5 separate regions of the Homo sapiens genome follow, and regions 1, 3, 4 and 5 are each linked to region 2. Evidence: fine-mapped expression QTL. A gene starts in region 2. Each other region holds a variant in brackets. All regions are shown on one strand. Distances are between the middles of the regions. Region 1 has its middle 19 kb from the start of LINC02115. Region 2 holds the start of NUDT12 (nudix hydrolase 12). Region 3 has its middle 140 kb from the start of LINC02115. Region 4 holds the start of LINC02115 (long intergenic non-protein coding RNA 2115). Region 5 has its middle 99 kb from the start of LINC02115.

Region 1 (5,110 bases), 40 kb before region 2:
TGCAAATTAAAATCTAATTTATCAATATCAAAATTTATTTTCAGAACTATTTAAATAACAAATGGGATATATCTATGAAGAAATAAGCATCTTTATTTTTATATATATATATAATTATTAATGATCCATTTATGTAACAACTTAAACTTCACTTGTCAGAGGCCTGGCAAGGTGGCTCACACCTGTAATCCCAGCATTTTGGGAGGCTGAGGAGGGAGGATTGCTTGAAGCCAGAGGTTTGAGAACAGCCTGGGCAACATAGCAAGACACCCATCTCTAAATTTTAAAAATAGCTGGATGTGGTGGCATGCGCGTGTTGTCTGAGCTACTCGAGAGGCTGAGGTGGGAGAATCGCTTGAGCCCAGGAGTTTGAAGCTGCAGTGAGCTATGATCACACCAGTGTACTCCAGCCTGTGTGACAGAGTGAGACCCTGTTTCTAAAAAAAAGAATAAAATAAAATTCACTTGTTAAGGTTAAACAGGTGAGGAGAAAGAAGAATCATTACCTAATTCATTTTCCATTACTTTGCGGTGGACTCCTACCTCTTATGAGGGTGACAGGAAAACAACATTCATTCGATAATATTCAGTGTTCACTTTCTACATACTAATTTCTGTCGTGTTGGTTATTGGAGCGGTCACAATGAGCAAGATGGCTTTTGCTCACTAGAATGTTACAGAGTGGTGGAACTTTTAAAAATAATATAGAACTGATCTCTGGCCATTTCTCCAATGCTTGTTCTAGTTCCGCTATTTTTTGAGATTGAGAGTGTAGGTTAACTATGAAGGCATTCATGAGGAGGATAATTTTCTGATATCAAATACTTTACGTGTAACAGCAATTCTTTTTTGAAAGTGTGGAGTATAAAAGAAATCTTATGGACCTAGGAAACTGTGTATGATAATATGGCCCTGGGATATGGTGGGAAGACTTTTCCTCCAGGATCTTTTCATATACTTTTGATCTTTTCAAATTAGGGGAAAGTATATGTTCTACAGTGTGTTTTAAAATGTGATCTGAAAACGATTGAAATGCCCACCAAGTACAAAGTACCACTTCCACTGTCCTGCTTGGTATTTGTGGACTCTTAGGTTTGCAAAGAATATAGAAGGTGATTTGTTCTAACGAACCTCTCTATGCTCAAAACATTTCTACCAAATTTCTACCAAGTAATCATTCAATATATGCTTGAACACTTCCCAGACTCAAATTTATTCCCTATTGAGTCAGTCTAATCCTTGTATACTACAATATGATAGAAAGTTTTTATGTGATGCATTGAATCTATGTCTCAGTAATCTTCCTTCACGTGTGAGCCTCCCCTTTATTCCATGAATACCCAGTAGATATTTATCAAGTCTTTCAAGGAGTCAGGCAATTTGTTTGTACTGAAATGAAGACATTCAAATCTCTTGAGGGACTCTGTTAAAATGCACACTTATCACTTTGTAGCAACAATATATTAATCCACTAAAAAGCACAAATGTTTTATCAGTTGCTATGGTTTGAATGTATATGTCCCCCAAAATTCATATGTTGGAACCTAAGATCCAATGTGATATTATTAAGAGGTGGGGCCTTTAGAGATAATTAAGTCTTCAGGGTTCTGCTCTCATAAATTGGCTTAGTACTCTTTAGAAGGGCTAGATTAGGCCTTTTTGCCCTTCTGTGTATGCCATGTGAGGACGCAGCAACAGGGAGCCATCTTGGTAGCAGCAAAATGCTTAATACCTCACCAGACACTTAATACTGGCACCTTGACCTTAGACTTCTCAGCCTCCAGAACTGTAAAAAACAAATCTATGTTCTTTATAAATTACCCAGTCTCTGGTATGTTGCTGTAACAGCACAAATGGTCTGAGATACCAAACATGAGTGTGAAAGTGGAAAGCTACCACCTTGAAAGCCAGAGCAGGGCCTGGGAAATGAATGGGAAGACCACAAAAAAGAAGCAGATCTGGGAGGAGCCCTGCTGGAGAAAAGCAGAGCGTTGCCGCTGAAACTGGGATCTTGGAATGTGCGTCTGCTGAGAAATGTTGAAGTGGGCACGGGTGTTGAAAGCTCCTGATTTCACCAGAAGTCAGTTTGCTGGAAACTATCCCAACAGTTGTATTCTGCTACGTGAAATGAAATAATTTTTTATTCATCTTTTTATTCCCAGTGCTTGGTGCAGAGCCTGGGACCACAAACTTTCTCAGATTTGCAGTCCTCTATAACTTTGTGCCTTGATGTGAACTCTTAGAATCACTCCTATTTTAAGAGAAATAAAACATTTCACACATTGTATGTAAGTTTTGTGTTATATTACATACAAAGGGCTGTTTATGGCTATTTCTATGCCATGTAAAAATATCATCTAATCCTTCTCATTGTCTGTAATTTTCTCAGGCTAGCCTACTTTTGGTTTCCTCATTACATTTTTTTATGATATAGAATTTCTGGTTCTTTGGCAGAGCTCTTAAAGATATATTCACACCATTAACAGCTGAATAAATGAAGCCTTGAGCAACTACTTTTTTAACCCAACAACGTATAGCCCTTACCTGGCAGAGGAAGAACTTAGTGTTTAGTTATTAAAGGTTTGACTGGTATCTGGTATCTTTCCTTTATAACATGATGGCTGTTACTTCCTGCCACACCCCCCATACCACACCCACCTTCTCTTGTTTATCTAGTTCAGAGGTCACAGATTGCTTACTTTGTACTGTGTCTCCCAAATCTCATGATCTGCAGACTCATACATTAAAGAATCCAGGTCTCCTGCTATTTGGAAGTCAGAAGGCCTGTCTGTACTGGACCTGCGTTTTCCTTCCCTTAGGACACACTCGCTAGTTCACCAACACTCCAGACTTGCTCACATACAGCCTGCTT[T/A]ACTCATTTACATCACCTGCCTGGCCCCTGTAGACAGTTCACATTGTGACGTCTAATCTAGTTGATTCCTAAACGCACACACATGGTGGAAGGAACTACACAAATATTACAGTGAACACTCATGTCAGGGACTCCGAATCTGAGGCACATGCATGGATGTTAAGGGGTTAGAGGATCGCTTTTCAAAATGTAAGTGTAAGTTTGTGCCTATATCAATTTTATAATTTTCTGGTAAAAACAGTCCAAAAGTATCCCAGTTTCTCAAAGCAATACACTCCCTGAAAAAATTACCCAGTTCTAGCCTGAGATATCAGTAATATGAAGACAATAATGTTGAATAAAGTATAAAGATATTCATAGTTCTAGGAGAGTTAAATCTATGCAAACATTTATAGATTCAAATATTTTGTATTAATATTATAACTGCTGAACTATGTTCCTGGTTTTGTTGTTGTTGTTGTTGTTGTTTGTTTTGGTATGTGAACTATTCAAAGAAATCTGATGTGACTTCCCTGCATTTATTTTTGCATTCAATAAATATTTGAGCACCTATACTACAGGACAGGTACTATCTAATTTTATGAATATAGCAATGATCAAAACAGGAAAAATCCATGCCCTCCTGGAACTTATATTCTAGTGAAAGAAGACAGAACAAAACAAAAATAAACCAGTAAAATATATAGCAGATTAGAAGGCAAAAAGTGCTATGTATAAATGGAAAAAGGATAGCGTTTGCCTGGGCTGTAATGAAGATGGTTCAGTTTGCAATTTTAAATGGAGTGGTCTGAGAAGACCTTCCTGAGAACATGCTGTGTGAGCAAAAATCTAAAGGAGATGAGGAGATGAGAATGAACCATGTAGACATATAGGGGAAGACTGGTCCAAGTAGTGGGAGCAGTCCATGCAAAGGGCCTGATGTGGATCTGGGCTGGAAGGTTCTAGGAAGTAAGTCAATATGGCTGGAAGAGTGATCAAGGAAAAGGATACAGGGAGAGAGTTGTAGGAATAGCCTTTTGATGAATCAGTAACACAGGGAACCAGTAGCTGGAATTGTTTACCAAATGGGACAGTTTCAAACTCTGATGTGTAATATCAGCTTTGAGAGAATTCTGACTTGAATTATTGATTTTCTTAAGAAATGTTTCCCGCTGGGAGAGGTAGGACAGGGAGGAACATGCCTCTGGGGGAAGGAGAGTCAACTTGGGAGATATATTCATCCAGGTGAGCATGTGTTTCCTTTGGGAGGCACAGTTGTTCTTACTGCAGGTTCCCTTGCAGTTCCAAATAACTATAGACTGAAGTCAGTGTTGGGATTAATGTCATTGATGCTGATTTCTGGATGGATGTTGGCACCAGGAAGCAGTCCCCATGACTGATGGTCCTTGCTTTAGGGTGTTCATATCAAGCAGATGACCATAGAGTTTTCATACTGTTTTAGGGCATTTACTCTCTACAAAACAAATTTCACATTTTATTCTAACAGTTATGTAATTGATTATGCTTTTTGTATTTTATTTCTACTTCTAAATTTTACTAATTTCATTCAAAAATCTAGAGACAGAACTACAAAGAAAATATACCTTCTCCTTTAAGTTTCATCATTCCAAATATAATTTCTGAAGCTATTAGGATTATTACCAGCAGTTTAGAAGACAGTTTTTACTCATTCAAAATGTATTTTAATTTACAATATGGAATAATGCTAACATTAAATATAAAATAATTTGGACTCATTTAAAAAAACAAGGGCCTTCTATGAAGTGACAAAAATGATATAGTGCTGATTTGAGATTGAAAGCAGACAGGCAGAATTATGTACTTAGGAAAGAACTTCCATCTTGGCCCTACTTGAGGTCTGGAGAGCTTCTGGGTTCTATCAACAATTTGGTCCAAGTAATGCACAAGGGAGGTCAGAGGTCTGCTGGAGGTCAGAGGCCCCATGGTGGCTCAGTGAGGATTAGGCAAGGTCGTTTCTGTTTTTTGTCCTTTGTTGTAATTACTATTCCACATGGCCTTCCAAGACATACATACAATGCCTCTGTAACACCACAGCAAGATTTAAAAATATATTTTATTACAAACATATTCTTCCTATTCTTCTGAACATGCTTAGCTTGCAAGAAGGAAAGAAATGGTGGATTATTTAAGAGTGGCAAAGACTAACATTTCCTACAAAATTGATTTGGCAATATATCAACCTTTTAAAGAGAAATTGATTTTTTTTTTTTTTACATT
Region 2 (5,110 bases):
TTTGCAACTGCTTTTTTATCAATGAACAATATTGATAAATAGCAATAGAATAATAGCAATGGTTTCCAAGGCAACATACTATTCAACAGGCAATCCTTAAACAGCATACATTTCAATTTCAAAATGTTATCAGTTTAGAATTATAAAATGCAACGCAATTTATATGCCCATGGGAGTTACACAAAATAATGAATAAAGAGCTCTGACAGTACAGACGAGGGGGCCATATCCTTGGGAGGGGGAACCAGGTAACATATTACATAAGGAGGAGGTATTTAGGGTAGACCAGAGGGGACTTCACGATGGGTGGGGACATGAGGGGGAGAGCATTAAAACAGATGGAAGTAAAGGCAGAGACTTTATAAGTTTCACAGGAAAACAGTTTATTGTTTGACCTTGCACAATTAATTCTGTAATCCATCTAGGATCTATTTTTGTTCATGGCATGAGGTAGGGGTCAAGATACTTTTTTACCCAATGCATAATCCATATTACTCCGTATTATTCTTGAAATTACCATCTTTGTCCTACTACACTGAGACAAATATTGTCACAAATCAGATGATCATATATTTTTGGTTCTATTATTGGACAGTTCTGTTGGTCACTTTGTTGTCCTTGAATCAGAGCAGCTTTTAAAACTCATTAACTTTATCTGCTTTGTCACCTTTTTGTTTCGGTGGGGTAAACCCTGAAATAATTGTTCCATACCTCTTAAATATTGCCTAATCATGGACTGCAGATGATAGAGCACACACTGAGCTTTTTTTGTCTTTTTTTTTTTTTGGCGGCGGGGGATGGTGAAAATGGTTCATGATTCAACTGTCTGTGAACTTCTCAAAGTATTTTTTTTTAAGGTATAATTCTTCTTTCTATGAAATGCTATTAAGAAAAGATTTGGGATTCTAACAACATTTCTATCATTCTAAGCAATAAGATTTTTAAGCTAAAAAGACAGAAAGGTTATAGCCCATAGTTTTTGATAGCTGCTGTCTCCTGGGTTCTGAAAGGGCGATCTGGCTGATGAATTGCATAGCAGGAATAGTATGAACAAAATTTAGGGAAAACAAGGAGTAAAGATTAATTGTCTCATTTTGGAGCTGTTCACCTTTCCTATTTGTGTCTTTCTGCTACTTATAAATAGGTTAAAACTGCTCACAGTCATGGAAACACTTGGATGAAACCTAACAGTGGAAATCTGTTTAGAAATTAAATTACCAGAAGTAATATCTACATGACAGAATAATTTTTGATTTATTCTAGAATTTACTTCGCTGTTCCTTTCATATTGAAATTTCTACATACGTTAAAAATACTATGCATAACAAAAGCTACAAATTTTCAGGACTTTATTTTGAAGCACTGCTGTACAGCTCCTGTACTGATCTCCCTTCCAAATTGTCTTTCTCTTAAGTTTATTTTCCAAAAACCCATATTATAGTTTTTTCAGCTAGGTTTAGTTTGAATAATATTTCACTGTCTCATGTTCTGGGGTCACCGTCACTCCCTCACATTCTCACAGGCCGCGCCAGGTAACTGCAAAATTGTCCTTCAAAAATACAGCGTCATTCACTACCTCCAGGGCAATGCTTATGCATATGCTATTCTGTGGAGATGGGAAGTGGAAAGTGTACACTTTTCCCTCTAGCTTTCTCAGCAGAAAAGCCATCTAGAAATAGTACCATTATTCATTCCAGAGAAGCACATAAAGTCTAACACCCAATTCTACTGTTTGATTTACTTTTTCAATTCTCATTGACAGGTTATAGAAGGTAAAGATTTGAAGGCAGAATAAAGTGCTGCCCTTGTTTTCCAAGAAGCTCAAGGACTATTCCGAGAAATCATTTAAAAGAATATTAGATGTAAAGGGACATAAATTTTTAACAAACCAACATCCACTTTTACTGACATGTAACCCGGGGCCCATGACTTCCGCATGCTCACACAGACCGAATGGGACAGGACAGGACCTTAAATATCGCTCTGTCACTGAAATCACTGACCATCAATTAACGAATTTCATCCACTCCCTGGGCACTCAAGACCAATTAAGTGCCACCCGTGCACGGTCTCTGAAAATGGTAAAATGCCTTAAGATATTTTACTTTCTTGCCACTACTGTGAGATTCCTTCTTTCGAGGTGAAATCACACCCTAAGTAGCGCTTCCTTTTCCCCATCTCAGCTTGGGCAGGAAACTCTACGACCTCAGTACCGCCGCACCTCCGCCCTGTCGCGGGAGCCCCTGCAAATGCGTCCGTGGCTCCCGCGCCTGCGCCCACCAAACCACTACGAGGCTCCGCCACACAACTCAGCAGGGCCACGCAGGGCAGCGCGGGAACCAAAGAGCCCAGGGAAGTGGTCACCGCCCCCAGAGGAGGCAATGAGACGACTAACTCCCCACTGCTTCTACTAACCCAAAGGTGACCACAGTAGAGGCAACCAGGATGCAGTCCAAAGATTGGGATATCCCACTCGCTTTTCCTGGAGCCGGATGCAGTCTTCCCGACTTCCGGTGGAGATCCGGGGGTGGGGGGGGGGCGGGAGGGGGGCCCCCGCGGTTTTATGGGAGATGTAGTTTGAAGCCCACAGGTTGTGCGCAAGGGAGAAGGGGTGGAGATTGGGGGTGGAAGTGTTTGGGAGCCGGCGCGGGAGAGATCGCGGTCTAAAGGATTGGAGCTGAATGAAGGGCTGAAAATCCTTCTCCTGAGACTGTGATGTGTAGATAGAACGTGGTGCAGGCGATCGGAAAACTGTAGGCCTAAGGAAACGATTTTAAATTTTCCAGCGTCTCCCACCCAACTCCTAGCCCTCTCTCCAATACAGTCCAATGCAATTGAGTGCTCAAAGCATTCTTTCCTGTTAAATAATCCTGGACTATTGACTAGACCAAGTCACTCTTAAACGAGATATTCGGCCTCTGTAACACCTTAATCATTCACCCCATGGGAAAACTGGTATCATATACTGACGCCTAACTTATTCAGTAGTCCTTTAAAAAGTATGTATCAAGCGCGCAAAACACCTCCTTGGGTTGTGAGGTGTAAATAGGATAATGTATCCAAAGCTCTTAGGATGTTGTGAAGTGCAGAGTGGGCACCCACAACAAAATTATTGTCGTTATTTTTTATTTCAGTTCCTGTGCTTTTATGCTCCAAAACCTACAGAAGTTATGAGTCCGAGATTACAAAACTAGGTGTTGGCGGTCTTCTAACTTCCAGACCAGGGCTTTTTCCTTTACTAAACTCTCTCCTTGGTAATCAGCAACAGCTACAGGGGTCTCTTACAATTGATCACTGTTTCCCACCCAGATTTTACCCTTGGAAGCTCCTTCTCACTGTGAAGCTGTATGCACCAGTTGACATTGATCATGAGGGCTTCTAACGCCCTGTGCTGCTGTTTTTTTTTTTTTTTTCTTTTTTTTAGATGGGTTCTCACTCTGTCACCCAGGCTGGAGTGCAGTAGTGCGATCTTGGCTCACTGCAACCTCCGCCTCCCGGGGTTTCAAGTGATTCTCCTGCCTCAGTCTCCCGAGTAGCTGGGATTACAGGTGTGCGCCACCAGGCCCAGCTAATTTTTGTATTTTTAGTAGAGACAGGTTTTTGCCATGTTGGCCAGGCTGGTCTGGAACTCCTGACCTCAGGTGATCCATCCGCCTTGGCCTCCCAAAGTGCTGGGATTACAGGCGCGAGCCACTGCACCCGGCCGCCCTATGCTTCTTTATGTGACTAGTTGTTTTCAGCCTTTAATGATTTCAGTGACCAGACAGGTGGTCAGAAAGGATTAGTTACTTCACTTGGAGTACCCAATCTTTGCATTCAAACATATGTTAGATTAGTATAGTGAACCCTCGTGTATTAATGATCCAGAGTCAACAACTATTAATATATAGTTCTCCCAGTTGTTAGGATTGTTTTGAAGTAAATTCCAGACCCCATATTGTTTTGATGACAAATATTTAAGAGTAAACTTTTTGGAAATATGTATTATATCTAAAATATAAGGGCTTTGAAAAACAACACAACTTCAATATCCCTAGTATTACAAATTTAACAATAATTCTGTAATAACATAAAAGAAACATTCAATATCAAATTTACTCACTTGCCTCAGAAGTTTTATATGTTTTTCAGTTGATTCATCTGAACAAAGTCTCCACATCACATTTGATTTTTAAAAATCTATGGATTCCTTCCTCTTCCCCTTTTTTTCTGGCAGTTTATTTACTAAAGAGTAATGATCATTTGTTCTGTAGAATTTTCCACATTCTGAATTTTGCAGATTTTATTCCTGTGCTGTCCTTTCCCCCTGTATTTCTTGCAAACTGGTAGTTAACTTTATAGAATTACTCAGATTAAAGTTTGATTTTTTTTCACAAAAGACTTTATAGGTGTTACAGTTTACTTTGTATTGAATTACTTCAAGAGGCTTACAACTTCTGGTTGTCTCTCTTTTTTTAATGTTATACTTGATCATTGGGTTCAGATGTTGTCAACCTGATAACATGTATGATAAATAATAATATAAATATTATAAAAATATGGTAAATGTTTATGATAAATATATGACATTGATATATAATTATGATAAATATAATTATATTATTTAAATATTAAATTTATGATAAATATATTATAAATTTTTCCATCAACTTTTCAGCTAATAGTTTTAGCAGCCATTCATGATTATTGCCTGCATCCATCATTTTGTTATGAGTTGCAAATAGTGATATTCTAATTTGATATTCACTCTACATTTACTAACAAATTATTTTATAATAAAGAACTTCATCTAATTAAATATCTATACAGCTTATATGGAAAGATAGGATAAATGTGCGATTTTCACCATTATTTCCTAATCTTCAGAATAATTAGTTAGTTCCCTAATATCCTTCAGGTAAGTATACAAACGTGCCTTGTTTTATTGCACTTTGCTTTACTGTACTTCACAGATAGTACATTTTTTACAAATTGAAGGTTTATGACAACCTTGTGGCAAGCAAGTATATAGGTGCCACTTTTCCAACAACGTGTTCACTTTGTATGTCTATCACATTTTGTAATTCTTGCAATATTTCACACTTTTTCATTATTATATCTGTTATGGTGA
Region 3 (5,110 bases), 160 kb before region 2:
AATGCAGGAAGGATTGAAATTAACCAAAAAAGAGGGACTGCTTTAGCATTTGCTATGATCTAGCACTATGTTCAGTGCTTGCCCCTTTGTTATTTTATTCAGTGGTGGAATATGTGATACAATATGTTCTCATGTACGTTTCCTGAGCCTGTCATGTCTTACATCATTTAGGTCCTTGGACATTCTTCTCAACTTGACAGTCTCATATTATGACACATTGGGTTTCCATGAAAGTAAAGTCTGAGACAAGGACCTGGGTGCAGGCAGTTTGTTTGGGAGATAATCCCAGGAAGTAGCATGCAGGAATGAGAAGAGTGAAAGCCAGCCTAAGGTTGTGGTATCAAGGGCATTGCTGTAGACAGTAGGGGCTCAATTCTGCTGGGATTGATGCTCAGAATGCTCCTGAGATTTGTTTGCCTGGAAGACAGGCAGGAAGCTGGGGCATCCATCCACTAGCCCTTGCCCCTTCTTGGCTGAGGATTTCTCTGAGAAGGTAACTCCCCTGCACTTGTGGACTATACCCAAGCAGACAAAATAGGCTCCTGCAGTATCAGAGAGGCTCTAAGCAGAAAAACACAGATTATGTTTGAGGTGGGGTGAGGAGAGATGGTTTCATCTAAGCTTTCATATATTATATACCACAGCTGTCCTAAAATCAGAGGTGGTTTGTGATACAAGGTACTTGAGGTGTCTGTCAATGAAATAATAGGAAATATATCTTGGTCTCTGCCCCCAGTTCCTGGCACAGAGCTCCTAAAACCCTTAGAGTTTCCTAAGCAGTAAGGGTGCTAGAAGTATCTTTTGTTCTAATATTTAATCTCTGCTCTGGTTACTGACACAGAGCTCAGAATTTCCTGAGTTATAGGAGCATCTTTTGCTCTAATGCAGAGACTCTTGGTGCGCTCCTAGATGGAAGCTTCTCATGAGAAAGGCGAAGCCATTACTATAAGTTTGGAGATTTCAGCCCCACCCCTATTCTCTGGAGAAGAGAGAAGGGCTGGAAATGGTTGATAACCCATCATGCCTATGTGATTAAACTGCTATAAAGATTCCTGAACTATGGTATTCAGAGAGCTTCCAGGTTAGTGAACACTTCTGAGTGCCAGGAAGGTGCTGCACCTCACTCAGTGGGGACAGAAGCTTCCACACTCAGGATCCTTCAAGATCTTGCCCTATGTATCTTCTCATCTGGCTGTTAACCTGGGTTTTTATTATATTCTTTATTAATAAACTAAGTATGAATAAAGTATTTCCCTGAGTTCTCTGAGCCACTCTAGCAAATTAGTCTAATCCAGGAAAGGGTTATGGGAATCCTGGATTTATAGCCCATCATAGGTCACAACCTGGGACTTGTGACTGGCATCTGAAGTGGAGGCAGCCTTGTAGGACTGAGGCCATAACCTGTGGGATCTGATGCTATCTCTAAGTAGGTAGTGTCGTAATCAGATTGAATTAGAGGACAACCTACTGGTGTCTGCTGAAGAATTGCTTAGTTGGTGTACGTGGAAATACTTCCACACATCTGATGTCAGAAGTGTTTTGTTAAGTGGTGTGTGAGTAGAGGGAAAACAGTTTGGTTTTTCCTCTTGCTGCTATCTTGCTTACTCTGATTCATTTACTACTCCTTTTATCCATCCATCCATTCAACCAAATGCACTTATTTAGCACCCATTCTATCCCAGGAAATGTGCTAAGCCCTAGGAACATAATGGAAAAGCAAGATATGATCCTCATATTTAAGGGGCTTATATGTTATTGAGGAAACAAATGAGTTCCTCAATAAAAAGTAGCAAGAGTCAATTTCCATTAAAAATATATCATGGACATTTGGTCTTGGAAGAGTCAGAGCAGGTTCTTCTTTCTGGAAGAAGCAAAATGTAAGGTGATGGAAAAGCTAGGTCAGGTATTACCATTAAGCCTCTTATGACTGGTCTTACGCTGTTGAATAAAAGTTAGCTGGATTGGTTGGAACTCTGATAGCTTTACCTATTAAAATTCAGCCTTTAGCAATTTCTGCCAAATAACTCATTAAGTATTAGAATTAGTTTTTTGCCATAGTTTGAATATTTGGCTGGGTAATTGTTGGTTAAGATAACATTTCCATTCTATGGCCATTTTTTCTCGATTACCATTTTATTTTTTTGGCTCTACATACACCTTTGCTGAAAAACCAAAAGCTCACCTCTGTGAATAAAGTGACCTGAGTGTTGCTGATTGTTAAACTTTTTGGCAACTTTGAAGTAAGCAAATGC[C/A]AGAGAGAACCCTTTAAGGAGGCGTGGAGTAATTAGGGGCTGCAAACTGTCAGCTACTAACAAGGTCCAAGAAGTTTCTTGCTGTGTGAGTGGATTTCCTAAGTTTGCCTGCATTGGAGTTTAAATAAAAAGCTGTTTTGGCTGCTGATGTCATGTTCCAGAATGCCCAGGTGTACTCTCCCACAGTGCAGTCACAAATGGAGACTGTTTAGCATCACTTGCTGCTGAGAGCAGCTTAAGCTTGCATCTGAGGTGTCACTTTCTGCCTACTGTGGGAAATTCTTCCCAAATGGTCCTTGGCTGGCATCTTGCCCCAGCTAAAATCGATGTAATATATAATCCTTTGAATCTGGGCATGGGGCCAGCATAGCAGGCACATAATTCTCATGCGACAGGGAAAGATGGACATGAGGGAGCTGTACAACAGTATTTCTACAGTCACTTACACACTCTAAAATGGCAGGATCGTACTATAGAATGGACATTCGTGTTAATGATCTTTCTTCTTACCTTCATGTGGAGAGAAGATTTCCTGGGCATATCGGGAGAAATTCATTCATTACTCAGTTCAACTATTCAAAAATATTTATTGAGTTCCCACAACCTGGTAGGCACTGCTGAGACCTGAACATATGGTAGTTAACAAGATTGAGAACATCCCTGCTCTCATGGAGATTATATTCCCATGGTAGAGGCAGGGAAGAGACATAAAACTATATAAACAAGAAAATGATCAGATTGATAAATGGCTATCTGTTAATAGAGAAGCAGGGTGATGTGATAGGTAGGGCATGGGTGGATTTTCTGAACGCTGGCAGGTGTGAAATGTTGGAGCCCATTAGTGGAGCTAGAGCACTGTGGGGCATAAAAGGCTGGGTGATGGTGGATGACCTGCATTGGTGACAATGATGTGACTGTGAGGAGTTAGGGGGAGGATCATCTGTTGGGAGAATGTGAGTAATCAACCTAATCTGGATGGGATGATCAATGGGTATGAAAGGCAAAGGGGATAAGTAAAAGTTACCTTTGAGCTGGGAGCACAAGCCTCTTAGTGGCCTGTGGTGTTGCACCTGTGAGGGCAGTCCCACTTGCTGTGAAGAGGCCAGGATGACCCTCCTCTCCTCTTATGCAGTGTTGTATGGACTGGGACACAAGATGCAGATGCTTATTCTCACTGTGAACTGGGTGACAGAACTGAGGGCTTCTCCAGTTTTCAGGACAAGAAATCCCTTCACACACTCTGTCATCATCCTTTCCTTCAGGGATCTATTCTCCTAACACTTACAGCATCTATGACTTTATCCCTTAGGGAGGATGCATGAGCCAGGAGATGATTTTTCCACTCTATATATATGCACCTGCTATGAATGGCAGGCTGGCAAGAAAATTTTCTGTCCCCTTCTATGGCACAGCAGAAGGCAAATGTGCATATAATTGATTATCAAAGATATGTTATAAATATCTTAAATTTTTCCTTCTTGCAAGTTTCTGTCCAAATGTCATCTCCTTAGAGAAGCTATTTCTCAACATCCTGTCTAAAATACCCACTTCATACCACCTATTTAGCCTCTTTTCTCTGTTATATACTTTTACTTCATTTGGGTTTACTTTTTAAATTTTATACTGACTTCTTGAGTTGAATGCTTAACTCATTATTTTCAATCCCTCTACCCTCTCTATATGTGAATTTAAGATTGTGAATTCTTCTGAAGTATGACACCAGCTGTATCTAATTCTGATATATCGTATTTTAAAAGTTGCCATTCAACTCCAATTTTTTTTTCAAATTTTCATTGTGCTTTAATATTTGAATAACATATTTAAAACTTTTAAGATTTTCAAATGCATGGAATTTGGGGGTTATTTTTTGCTGATTTCTAATTTAATTTTATTTTGCTCAGAGAATGAGGTCTGTATTATGTCAGTGTTTGGTGTTTGTTAAGTTTTGCTGAGTTGTGTTTTATTTGATTAGTTTTTGTAAATTTTCCACGTCTAGTTAGAAAGAATAGATGTTCTCTAATAGTACTGGATATTATATAAATCTATTGTGATATTTAAATCTTCTGTCTTCAAATTTTTTATACATTTGATTTCTCACTTTCTGAGAGAGTTGTATAAAATTCTCTCATTATGATTATTTTATTTCTCTTGAACATTTTTTTCTCATGTTTTTGTTTATGTATTTTCAAGCTGTCTCATTAGGTGCTTACAGGTTCAGCATTTACAGTGAATTCCTTTTATCATTTTCAAATGCCCCTCCTTTTCCCTGTAATACTTTTAAACAATCTTAAAGCTTTTTTTCCTAATATTAAAAATGTAACTCCATTTTTTTTTTTTTTTTAAAGATAGGGTCTGGTCCTGTTGCTGAGACTGGAGTGCAGTGGTGCCGTGATCTTGGCTCACTGCAACCTCCGTCTCACAAGTTCAAGTGATTCATTCTCCCACCTCAGTCTTCCAGGTAGCTGGGACTACAGGTGCGTGTCACCATGCCCAGCTAAATTTTATGTTTTTAGTAGAGACGGGGATTCACCATGTTGGTCAAGCTGGTCTGGAATTCCTGACCTCACATGATCTGCCTGCCTTGGCCTCCCAGAGTGCTAGGATTACAGGCATGAGCCACCATACCCAGCCAAAAATGTAATCCCACTTCTAGCAAGTATTTTCTTAGAATAACTTTCTACATAATTTTAGTTTCTATTCTGGGGGGGACCTTAGGGTTGAGTGTTTTCCTTGTTACCATATATAGGTGGATTTCTAATAAGCTATGTAATAGCCTCAGTTTAAATTACAGTTTTATTCTGGTTACTACTTTACTTGGATTTCTCTGCCATCTGAAATTGTGCTTTTTAATTTAGTTA
Region 4 (5,110 bases), 22 kb before region 2:
GAAGCCCATTCTATAAACATTTTTTTTTTTTTTTTTTTTTTTTTTGGGGACGGAGTCTCGCTTTGTCTCCCAGGCTGGAGTGCAGTGGCCTGATCTCAGCTCACTGCAACCTCCTTCTCCTGGGTTCAAGCAATCCTCCTGCCTCAGACTCCAGAGTGGCTGGTATTGCAGATGCTCGCCACCATGCCCTGCTAATTTTTGTATTTTTAGTAGAGACGGGGTTTCAACATTTTGGCCAGACTGGTCTCAATCCCCTGACCTCAAGCGATCTGCCCTCCACGGCCTCCCAAAGTGCTGGGATTACAGGCATGAGCGAATGCACCTGGGCCCACCCTACAAACGTTAAGTCAGAGTCTCTGAGGAAATGCAGACAGAAAAGAGGATTGTGTAGTGTAGAATTTACTATATCTAAAGTTTAAAGAATTGGGAAAGAAAAAATTGATATTAGTAAATGAAAAGAAAAGTGAGCTTAGTATCTAATAATGTGTGATACATTCAGTAATACCAGAAAATCTCTTAACAGTTCCAAAATGTCTGTTCTTTGTTTGACTGTCGATATGTGTGAGATCATCTATCCAAATCCCCCATTTCTTATTGGAGAAAAGTGGGAGAGATGTAGCAACTTGCCCAAGAATCATGGTCCTGAGATGCTGCTTCATTTTCTCTCTCCACCATGGTAAGGTTCTGAAAAGCGAACAATTTTCTTAAGATTTTTGAAAGATTTTCATTGTTTTACTCTGTTAAACTTAGAGGCTCTTCCTGACATGCTTCATGAACAGCCCCTTTCCTCTTTCACTTTATTATGGAATGATAAATTAAAATTGGGAAAATCCAGTGTACTTAACAACAGAGATAGCCTTTGAATTTGGCACTGTGCACTGTGGGCTTAAAGTTCCGAGCTGAACTTGATGTAAAAATGTAAATATAATGTACATTTCAAGGAGTTTACTGTTTAGCACAGGAATTCTCAAATTTGAATGTGGTTGAGAATCACTGAGCAACTTGCTGAAAATGTAGATTTTGACCTTCACTTTAGAGATTTGGAGTCTGATTGGTGATCCAGGTGTATGCAATTTTAATGAGTGCCCACTCTCCCACACCCTTATACACACACCAAGCGATTTTGATTAGAAATCCCACTGAAGCAGATCCAATTGAATAGGTAGAATGGAACTTCATTCAAAAAATCTTTGAAAGCCTTAAGATTTTAGGCTAGGGCTGCCCTGAGGAAACTTGCTATGAATTGTTTCACTTTATTCTATCTCATTTCTCATCTCTCTCAACTGCACACACTAAGGCTTGGATTTTTTGTTTTATTGTTTTGGCTTAAGATTCTCTGTTTCTATATCAACAAGCTTCTAGGAAGAAAATTCAGTGATAGATTGCTTTTTATTTTTTTCTCAGCCCAGTGTGAAGAGGCTGTACCCAAACTGTGTTCTAAATCAATCTTATGTTAGCTCACCAACATCCTTTTTTCATCTTGTACTAACTGGAACTTGTGATAAAAATCTAGCAAGTCAGATTAGCAGGCCAGGGCGGTTGGAGTAAGACAAATCATGTTGTCTTTTTGATTGCTTGCTCTCCTGTGTTCACATTCAGCTTCTCAGAGGCAAGGGGTTCCTATAGTTTGGGTACAACTGTAAGAGCTGAAACAGTTGGTAAGTACATGGAGAATAACAGTGTAGTGGAAGTGTTTGGAAGGAGGGCACTTGGCAGGATGAATGAGGTATTTAGTTTTATCTTCTTATTTATGATGGAGGATATATCTGCTCATCTCCTTAGTGCTGCAGCATCTGTGGGGCATATTCTTTATTCTGGAATTGAACCAGACCCCTGGCCGCTCCACAGTTGACTTGAGCCACATGAGCTTCAGAGGAACTTTATTACTGGGTTCACCAAACATATACAAAACACCTCAGTGTATACAGCCTTAGGTTATTCCAGTCTTCTGTGGAACCACTAGCGGTATGACCCAAAATGTGGGATCCACAAGGGCTAAGACCTTGACTATCTTATATTTTGATATCTTCCTATTCCATATGTGTGGAGGAAACACAGTATTCAATAAATATTTGTTGGATGAATGAACACAACTTTATTGTTCCCAATTTCAGTCATTTGCATACTACCTTCACGAGTTCTACAACATTCATAAAATAGCTGTGCTGTTATTTGCTTAATAGTTTTTTTATTCATTTTTTTTTACTTTAGCTTCATGTTCGGCAATAATATAGGTGAAATCCTGGGTTATATCTAACACATATTAAAAACAAATAATAAAAAGGAAATATCTCACCTTGCACCACTCCAAACCATTGTGCATTCCAGCAGTGGTGTGCGTCCCTTGCTTTAGAAGATTTTAAAGATGCAGTCATACTCTGCGTGCTATCATAATGACATTATTAGACTAGAAATCCCTGAAGAACTGTATTTTGCTTTGCTCCATTTCCTCTCTGGCTTTAGAATGACTATTAGACTGGAAGTTTAGCTAATCCCACATGCAGAATGATGTACGAATTAAGTATCACTGTATGAAGAGAAATCACCCTATCCAATTACAATTAGAACCTTAGCTACTCTCTATATTTTTTGAATTGCTAGGTCTGAGAAATCTATAATTATGGTTTTCCCCTACGCTGACCTTGACCAGCACAGGGAGTTTCAGAATC[T/C]ATCTTGAAAAGCCCATTTTCAAAATTGACTCAGTCCTATGTGACATTTTACATTATTCCTCTTTGACTAATTATAGTCCACAATAAGAAGTGATAACTTCATTTTAACACATGTAAGTATTTCAAATAATAAAAAGTTTACTATGAAGGTGTAGTTCCATTAAGATAAAGAAAGAAAAAATAAAGCACACACATGTACTTAAATATATGATTAGATGCCTTGTAAAAGTTAGCAAAAGAATAGGCACAAAAGGCTAATTGAATACATCTCAGGGACTACTTTTTTTCTGCTCAAGACTTTCCTTACCTATTAATTAAATAAGTAATGCCTTTGAGTTTTCTAAAGAGGAATGCTGTCTCTTTTTTTGCTTATTGAAGTGGAGCCACACTACTTCAATAACCATGTTACAGAAGAGCTATGTTTCTCTGAAGACTTAATAATTGCTGAATCGCCAACTGTTGCTGGGTTTCAATGACGTCTTCCTAATTTTGAAATATTCAACCTTAAACCTCAGTTTGAAGTAGTATTTGAATATACCTTCAAACAGAAACCTCTGTATATAATTCCTCCGAAACATGAAATCCCTGTAACTCTTTCAATGAAGTTGTGTTGGTGTTCCCCAGGGGCAGAGCTCATCAATTCTGCTGACACCAGAGCTTCGGATTCCTTAAAGCAGAACCCCTGTGACATCTTCATTCCTTTCCAGTCTAGAATCAAGGAAAACTGATGTATAACCACCATTCTAAATTCTAAAGATTAAGAAAAATCTCAAGTAAATATTTAAAATAAACACTCAAAATATATCTTATCCCTAAGCAAAATTGTGCTTTGCTCATGGTAGCCTAAGAAATGGCTGCATGTTCATTCTACTTCAAGTCATTCAGAAGAAAATAATAAATATGACCTTTAAAATATTTTAGTGGCAATGTTATCCATTATTAAGAGCCAATTATCGTTAGCAATATTTAGGGCACTTTGGACAGTGCTAAATCTCATTATTTGTTCATAAATCAAGGTAACTTGAATTACTCTGAAATTACTGTGTTACCTCAGAAAAATAATTTGATAAGAATATTAATGCAAACAAGATACAAAGGCTTCAAAGGGGCTTTAATCGAAAGATTTAGAGGAGAAATCTCCAATCTTAGAATCACCATTTTAAAACATTTTCTATGCTTACTTATTCACTTAAGTAAATACATTTCTGTAGCTTAATCCAAACAAATGCATGTTTTTGAAAGCAATAAAAAGGCATTTATTTAAAAATGTTCTATGCTTACTATTTCCTGCTGACCTTCTTTTTATATAGCTTAAGTCACTGACTGTGCTGTATTTTTGCCCACTGTCATAAAAAAAGTATGTAAACTGCAGTCTGGCCAATGATGAGGGAATGAGAAATTATGCTTAGAATTAATCTGTCAGGTTAATTTAATCACTTTATGACTGGTTTTAAATTGGGCAGATAATCAGTGCTAACATCCCATTCCATCTCAAATTCACTGAGGTCTCTACAGTCTCATGGGATCAGAATAAGTTATCAGTGGATTTTGGGTAGTGTGTGTACATCTTCACAAATCAGATAACATTCAGAATTTTTATTCTACTTTTTGTAAAAATAATCCGGGACCACGAAAGTGTCGTCACATCTAGTAAGAGTTGAAGATCTGAAACAACACAGTGAAATTCCTGGTGTCATTTTAAAGATCTTTTTGAAAACTTGGTCAGTGGATGATTTTTTTCCCCTAGAGAGAAGATACCAAGACTATCTTATAAGCATCCTAATTGTAATTTCATCACATGATTAGTACAGATTTATTTAAGAAGTTAGATGACTTTACATATAATTAAATGGTCAGTTGCTAGCAACTAAGAGAATTATATCTTAAAACAAATATAGATAATAAAGGTTTATTTTTCAATTTATTTTCCAAACATATAATTTAGGAATACTTATTTAACATCATTTTAATCTGACATTAGATAAACGAGCTAAAATTTAAATTATCCGAGAGGAAAAGGAGATTTAAAAATATCTAATATTTAAATTCTGAGTGAGCACGGAGAAGGTAAAAGGAGCTGGCTGAATTCTTAATGGTGAAAAGAGTCTTTCATAGCAAGTATTAATTTCCATAAAAATCATAGTAAGTGGTCACTGAAAAAATCTTGCTTTCCAAATGCACAATTTGTTTGAAATAACCAGATGTAAAGATTAAGTAACAGCAAGATTGTAAATAGGCTGTTTTGCAGTTTGATTTGGGATTATTTACAAAAAGATGTTGGCCAGAATATTTTGCCTATGAAATTGTTCTAAATCACAGAGTAACTGCAATTGTAATAGAAAAAATTTCAACGTCCTAAATGTCTTCTTTCATGAAATCAGATCAAAATGTTTTAAGTAATTAATATAAAAACAATTAAATATAAACATTTATTTAAGTAA
Region 5 (5,110 bases), 120 kb before region 2:
ATGCATGGGCTCTGGAAGCAGGCAGCATGCCAATTCTTAGTCCTTTGGATGGTGCATCTGTCTTCAGGTCCCCAGATGCTGTGTATTGATTCCCACACCTGGGTGGGTGAGTGTCAGTAGTGGTGGTGGGGTGGGATGACCATAACCTTAGAGCTCTGGATGGTGCTTGAAGAAATTAGATAACTGTTTATATCTGGAAAGAGTGTCATATGGAAGAAAGGCCAGGCATGTGGTGAACTGAGTTCTAGTTTTGCCTTTGAACTGGCTTTTCAATTTCCTAATCTCCATTATTAAATGAGGGGATGACAAATTACTCACAATTCATAGCAATCATGGTCAGTTAAGTTAATTTGAATATTCTTTCATTAAGTACACATAATGTGTCATTTTTGGAGCATATAATACCTTAGAAAAGATAACCATTAGAAAATAAAACACAAGGTAAAGGATGATAATTGTCAAACGACAGTTAAGTTCAGAAAAGAGAGAAGGTTTATTTATCTAGGACCATCTGAGATTGCTTAATAGTAGAGATGGACAGCCCTTGAATAGATGTTTGAAGGACAGCTAGAATCTGGACAATTTATATTGGGTGATCAGTAGGTAGGAGACAGTTCAGGGGAGGGAACTAGCACAAATAAAATCATTGGGTCAGAAAAATATTAACAAGGTGGGGTGTGGTAAAGAAATAGAATGCAGCCCTGTTTGGGTGGAATGTAGGGTACTTTAGCAGAAACAGCGGAAGATAAGGCCAGAAACAGGAGCTTCTGGACAAAATATAAGGCCCTGGCGTGCTCTAGAGGCAACAAAGAATGATAGACATCTCTAGAAAGAGTTATGCAACGATAAGAGCTGAATATAAACAGGAATTTCATTTTCTTCTTCTTCATCAATTTTTTTCTTTTTATTGATAAGTTAGGCTACCTGGGTTCAAATTCTGTCTTCACCATTTACTATTTAGGAGAACTTAGGCAAATTATTTAACCTTGCTAAGCATCAGTTTCTAAACCTGTAGGTGGGATAATAACCTATAACCTACCTTATAGGGTTGTTGTAGAAATTAAATGAAATAATAAGTAAAAGCACTCAACAGAGTGCCTAGTACAAGAGCTGCTCTCACTGAATGACAGCTGCTGCTTTTGCTGTTATTATATTTAAGCTATTTAATAGACCAGTTTTTGCAGCTCTTTAATTAGGACTTTTCTGTTCAAGTAGGGCCTCTGACCTTTTGGGATAAGAAAAGCCACCTAGTGGCTGTCATTACTATTTTTAACCTCTTGTAATCAGTGGCAGTCTCTGGGCCCCAGGGGTTTAAAAGCACTTTGCTAACAGTTCTGAATTTGGAGTAATCTGTGGATTCGATCCCAAGCATTTTCTTTCTGTCTATGAAAACAGTCCCTTGAAAATTAGCTTAATTGATTTGGTAATTAAAGGAGTTCAGACGTTTATAGTGATATTTTATACTAAAAGTCCCAGTCAGTGACTACTTTGGAGGTTTAATTGTTTTGTTTACCTTAATTCCCATCCTGCTATCAGCTGTTTAAAACTAAGAATTTGGGGTTGAATAGAAACAGCCTGTTTTGTAAGGGCTTAGAAAGACTATCTCTTCATAGTGGAATGATGTTAGGGTCATGTTTTAAAATGGAAGGGAGGGTGGAGAAGACTCATTTCATTGTTCATCTTGAGTGATGAAAAACGGGCCATGGTGTGTTGCTCACTTTGTACCTCTTGTACACTTCCAAGGTCAAAATGGTCACTGGATGCCTCCTTCCAATTTGGCATGTCTACCTATCTAAACATAAGCATTAATCCTAAAAGAAGAAATTAAATGACTGAGATTCCAGGATGTTCACAATTGCTAATTACTGCTAATTATTTAAAGATTATTCATATGGGAAAAATTTAACTGCAAATAGAACACCAATGATATATTTTGTCAAAAATTATAAGAAAGTTAAGTAATTTATTTTGTGGAAATCAGGTGCAATTATTTTATTAAATTATATTATTTGTATGATCATTTGTACATATAACTTTAAACTATTATATATAATTTAATAAGTATAATACATAATAAAATACATACAGTAAAACATAAAATATATCTAATAATATATGTAAGAAAACTTTGTATAGAGCTTTCTTAAATCACTTTAATAGCAATGACTCATTTGATCTTCACAACAGTTTTGTGGAAGATTGATAGCTGTTATTCCCATTTTATTAATGAGGAAACTAAGTTTTAGGAAGTTAAGCAATTTGCCCAAAGAAAATAGTTAATATGTGTTTTTTTGTTGTTGTTGTTACTCACTTGTCCAAATTAGGACTACTATGTGCTATAATTTGAATATTTGACCACTTTAAACCTCATGTTGAAATTTGATCCCAATGTTGGAGGAGCGGGGCTAATGGGAGGTATTTGGGTCACGGGGGTGGCAAGGGATGATCGTATTTTGCAATATGAGAAGAACATGAATTATGGGATGTCAGGGGTGGAATGCTATGGTTGGATATTTGACCCCTCCAAACTGGAAAGATCCCCAGTGTTGGAGAAAGGGCCTAATGAGAAGTGCTTGGGTCATGTGAGAAGATCCCTCATGAATGGCTTGGTGCCGTTTTCGTGTTAATGAGTGAGTTTTGCTCTGTTAGTTCCTGCAAGAGTTGGTTGTTAAAAGAGCCTAGCACCTCCCTGTTCTCTCACTTTCTCTCTTGCCGTGTGATCTTTGCATATGCTGACTTGCTTTCCCTTTCCACCATGAGTGGAAGCAGTCTGAGGCCCTGACCAGAAACAAATGCTGGCACCATGCTTCTTGTACAGCCTGCAGAACTGTGAGCTAAATAAACCTCTTCTCTTTATAAATTACACAATAACAATGACTTAGGCATTATGAGAAAAGAGAGAAGTCACTACCTAAGAAAACTATTGGTATTGACTCTGAATGCATCAATGACAAAAAGAATAAAGGAATTTACTTTTCACTTTTCCAGGCAATAGAATGTGAGGTGAAGGGTACATTGGAGTTAGCCTGGCTGTCTTCAGATCCCACCTTCATTACTTACTACATGTGATCTTGTCAA[G/A]TTATGTACACTTTGCAGCCACTTTCCCATTCTAATTTGTAAAATGGGAACAGTAATAATACCTCTTCTCTGGAGGACTGATGGAAGAATTTAGGTAAAGCACATGGCACAGGGCCAGGTAGAAGATCAATAAAACTAATATGTTGCTACTATTATTATTGTAATTACTATTATTTCAAGTGAAATTTGAGTCCATACCTGAGGCTTGGGTAGAGCGATTGTTATCATAGAAATACAAGCCAACCATCCTTTCAAGATGCAATAGTGCAGGACCCACATGTCCGTGTTTATATCCAGCTGGTGCAGAAGACCCAGACACCCTGGGTTCTTGATAGCCAGAGGTGGGAGGCTACTGTTGTGCAGAGTAACATCTTCCCAGACATGGCTCTGCAGGTGTAACATAAAAGGGTCAGCTGAGTGGTCATCCTGTGCCAAAAGTCTTCAACTCCCAGACCAAGTCTGTCTGACACTAGGGAAGCCACTGCCCTACGTGGTTCTTGCTAAGACAATCTGAATACCCGAGCAACTAGCCAGAAAACCTAAACTTATCCATTGTCTATAGGGAAGTACTCTTTTTCCTTCTCGTGTCCATAGACATCCCTTCTTTTTGGCTTCTATTTTATTCTGAGGAAATCAAAAGTATATCAGTCAAAGAACAGGGAATCATGTATAGAAAGGCAATGGAAACAAGCACCTTAGCAAAGACTGTTTTTAATGCCCCTGTCTATAAGCGCTGAGCCTGATAAGTTAGGTAACATGTCTGGGAAGATGTTACCTCACTCACCATTGGGATTGTCTTCCTAGCCCTGTTCCTGGTATGTCCACTGTGACGAATAGCAATCCTTGGTTCGTGCTTTTCCTTACCTGTAACTCTCCTTTGTGCAATGGAACTAGTTAAATGCCCCAGGCCAACTCAGGTCTTAGGCTTTCACAGTCAGTGACATGAAGGCCAAAGATAAATTAAAATTCTCTTCTCTGGAGGGCAGCCCTTCCTCCACAGGCCTGGGAACTGGGAGGGAACTCTGGGAACTGTGACCTGAGGCTGGGAGCACTGTGCTTTATCTCTTTATCAGAATGCCCTGCCTGTACTTGCCAGTTCCTCTTCTTTGTTTGGTTTCATTTTTGCTCTTTAGTTTTAACATGGCAGGGCAAATGATTTCAGAAGGCAGAGTTTGCTGTGTTCTTTGCTGCGAAATGGGAGCCTGCTGGGAGTTTGGGTGTTCATTTTTTCCACTTTGCTTCAGACTCTGAGTGCATTAGCAGAATAAATGCCTCTTAAAAATATTGAGGCTCATTAGGATGACACATTGGAGAGATGAATGTGTGTGCTCAACGTTGTGTTCCAGGTAAAATGAAACACAAGTCCTGTTGTTTGTCAATGATGATGCTTGTTATTGTTCTGAAAGGACAGTTACAGGGTACCTGGCAGTACATTTAAGCTCAAACAATCCAAATTTTCCCAAAGGCACAGAGCCAAAATATGTAGAGAAGACAATTGATAATTACTTTTGCTTGTATACCATTTTGTGAGGAAATGAGCATATTTAAAGGAAATCTATAATCTCATTAGAAATCATATCTATATCATAAAAATGAAACAATTGGTATTAAAGCAATTTTTCCCCTAACAGTTTGTAGAACAAGTTCAGAAAGAGAAATATCAAATGCCTTAGACATTGAGGTGATGACTCGCCTGTTGATGTTATAAAGTTATCTATCAGTTTGTAGGTGAAATTTAAATTAAAAACCATCTTGCTCCAAAGCTTGGAATCATGAATGGGCAGGAATTGTGAAAATTGGCCTTATATGTCTACAGAACAAGGATGCTAACATAAAGCACTGTATTTCTGAATTATAACACACTCATTTTCTAGTAAGCTGCTCAATCAATAGCACCATCCTGAGATATCCCTGAGATCTTATATTTGGAGAGTAAAAAGAAAACAGCAGCAGTGGTTTGTCATCCATGGGGAACTACTGGACTTCTTCATGTGAAACAGAAATTCCACCCCAGTTTGTGACTCCCCACTGA

What was found.
Region 1: its variant is fine-mapped to the expression of NUDT12 in whole blood (TOPMed, PIP 0.97).
Region 3: its variant is fine-mapped to the expression of NUDT12 in whole blood (INTERVAL, PIP above 0.99).
Region 4: its variant is fine-mapped to the expression of NUDT12 in whole blood (TOPMed, PIP above 0.99). The same link has a PIP of 0.9 or more in monocytes.
Region 5: its variant is fine-mapped to the expression of NUDT12 in whole blood (INTERVAL, PIP 0.95).

What each region holds. Positions count from the first base shown.
Region 1 is chr5:103,520,776-103,525,885 of GRCh38, forward strand. It overlaps the pseudogene PDZPH1P. Among named protein-coding and RNA genes, the nearest start is that of LINC02115, 19 kb to the right of the region's middle. The variant T/A (reference allele first, on the strand shown) is at 2,873.
Region 2 is chr5:103,560,288-103,565,397 of GRCh38, forward strand. It overlaps NUDT12 (nudix hydrolase 12), which reads right to left and starts at 2,502. Exons shown (of 7, transcript NM_031438.4): 1 at 2,416-2,502. RefSeq lists enhancers at 1,742-2,274, 2,275-2,805.
Region 3 is chr5:103,400,480-103,405,589 of GRCh38, forward strand. No RefSeq gene overlaps it. Among named protein-coding and RNA genes, the nearest start is that of LINC02115, 140 kb to the right of the region's middle. The variant C/A (reference allele first, on the strand shown) is at 2,253.
Region 4 is chr5:103,538,647-103,543,756 of GRCh38, forward strand. LINC02115 (long intergenic non-protein coding RNA 2115) reads right to left here and starts at 3,339. Exons shown (of 5, transcript NR_104670.1): 1 at 3,208-3,339; 2 at 2,297-2,385. The variant T/C (reference allele first, on the strand shown) is at 2,670.
Region 5 is chr5:103,440,476-103,445,585 of GRCh38, forward strand. It overlaps the pseudogene PDZPH1P. Among named protein-coding and RNA genes, the nearest start is that of LINC02115, 99 kb to the right of the region's middle. RefSeq lists a silencer at 2,505-2,723. The variant G/A (reference allele first, on the strand shown) is at 3,079.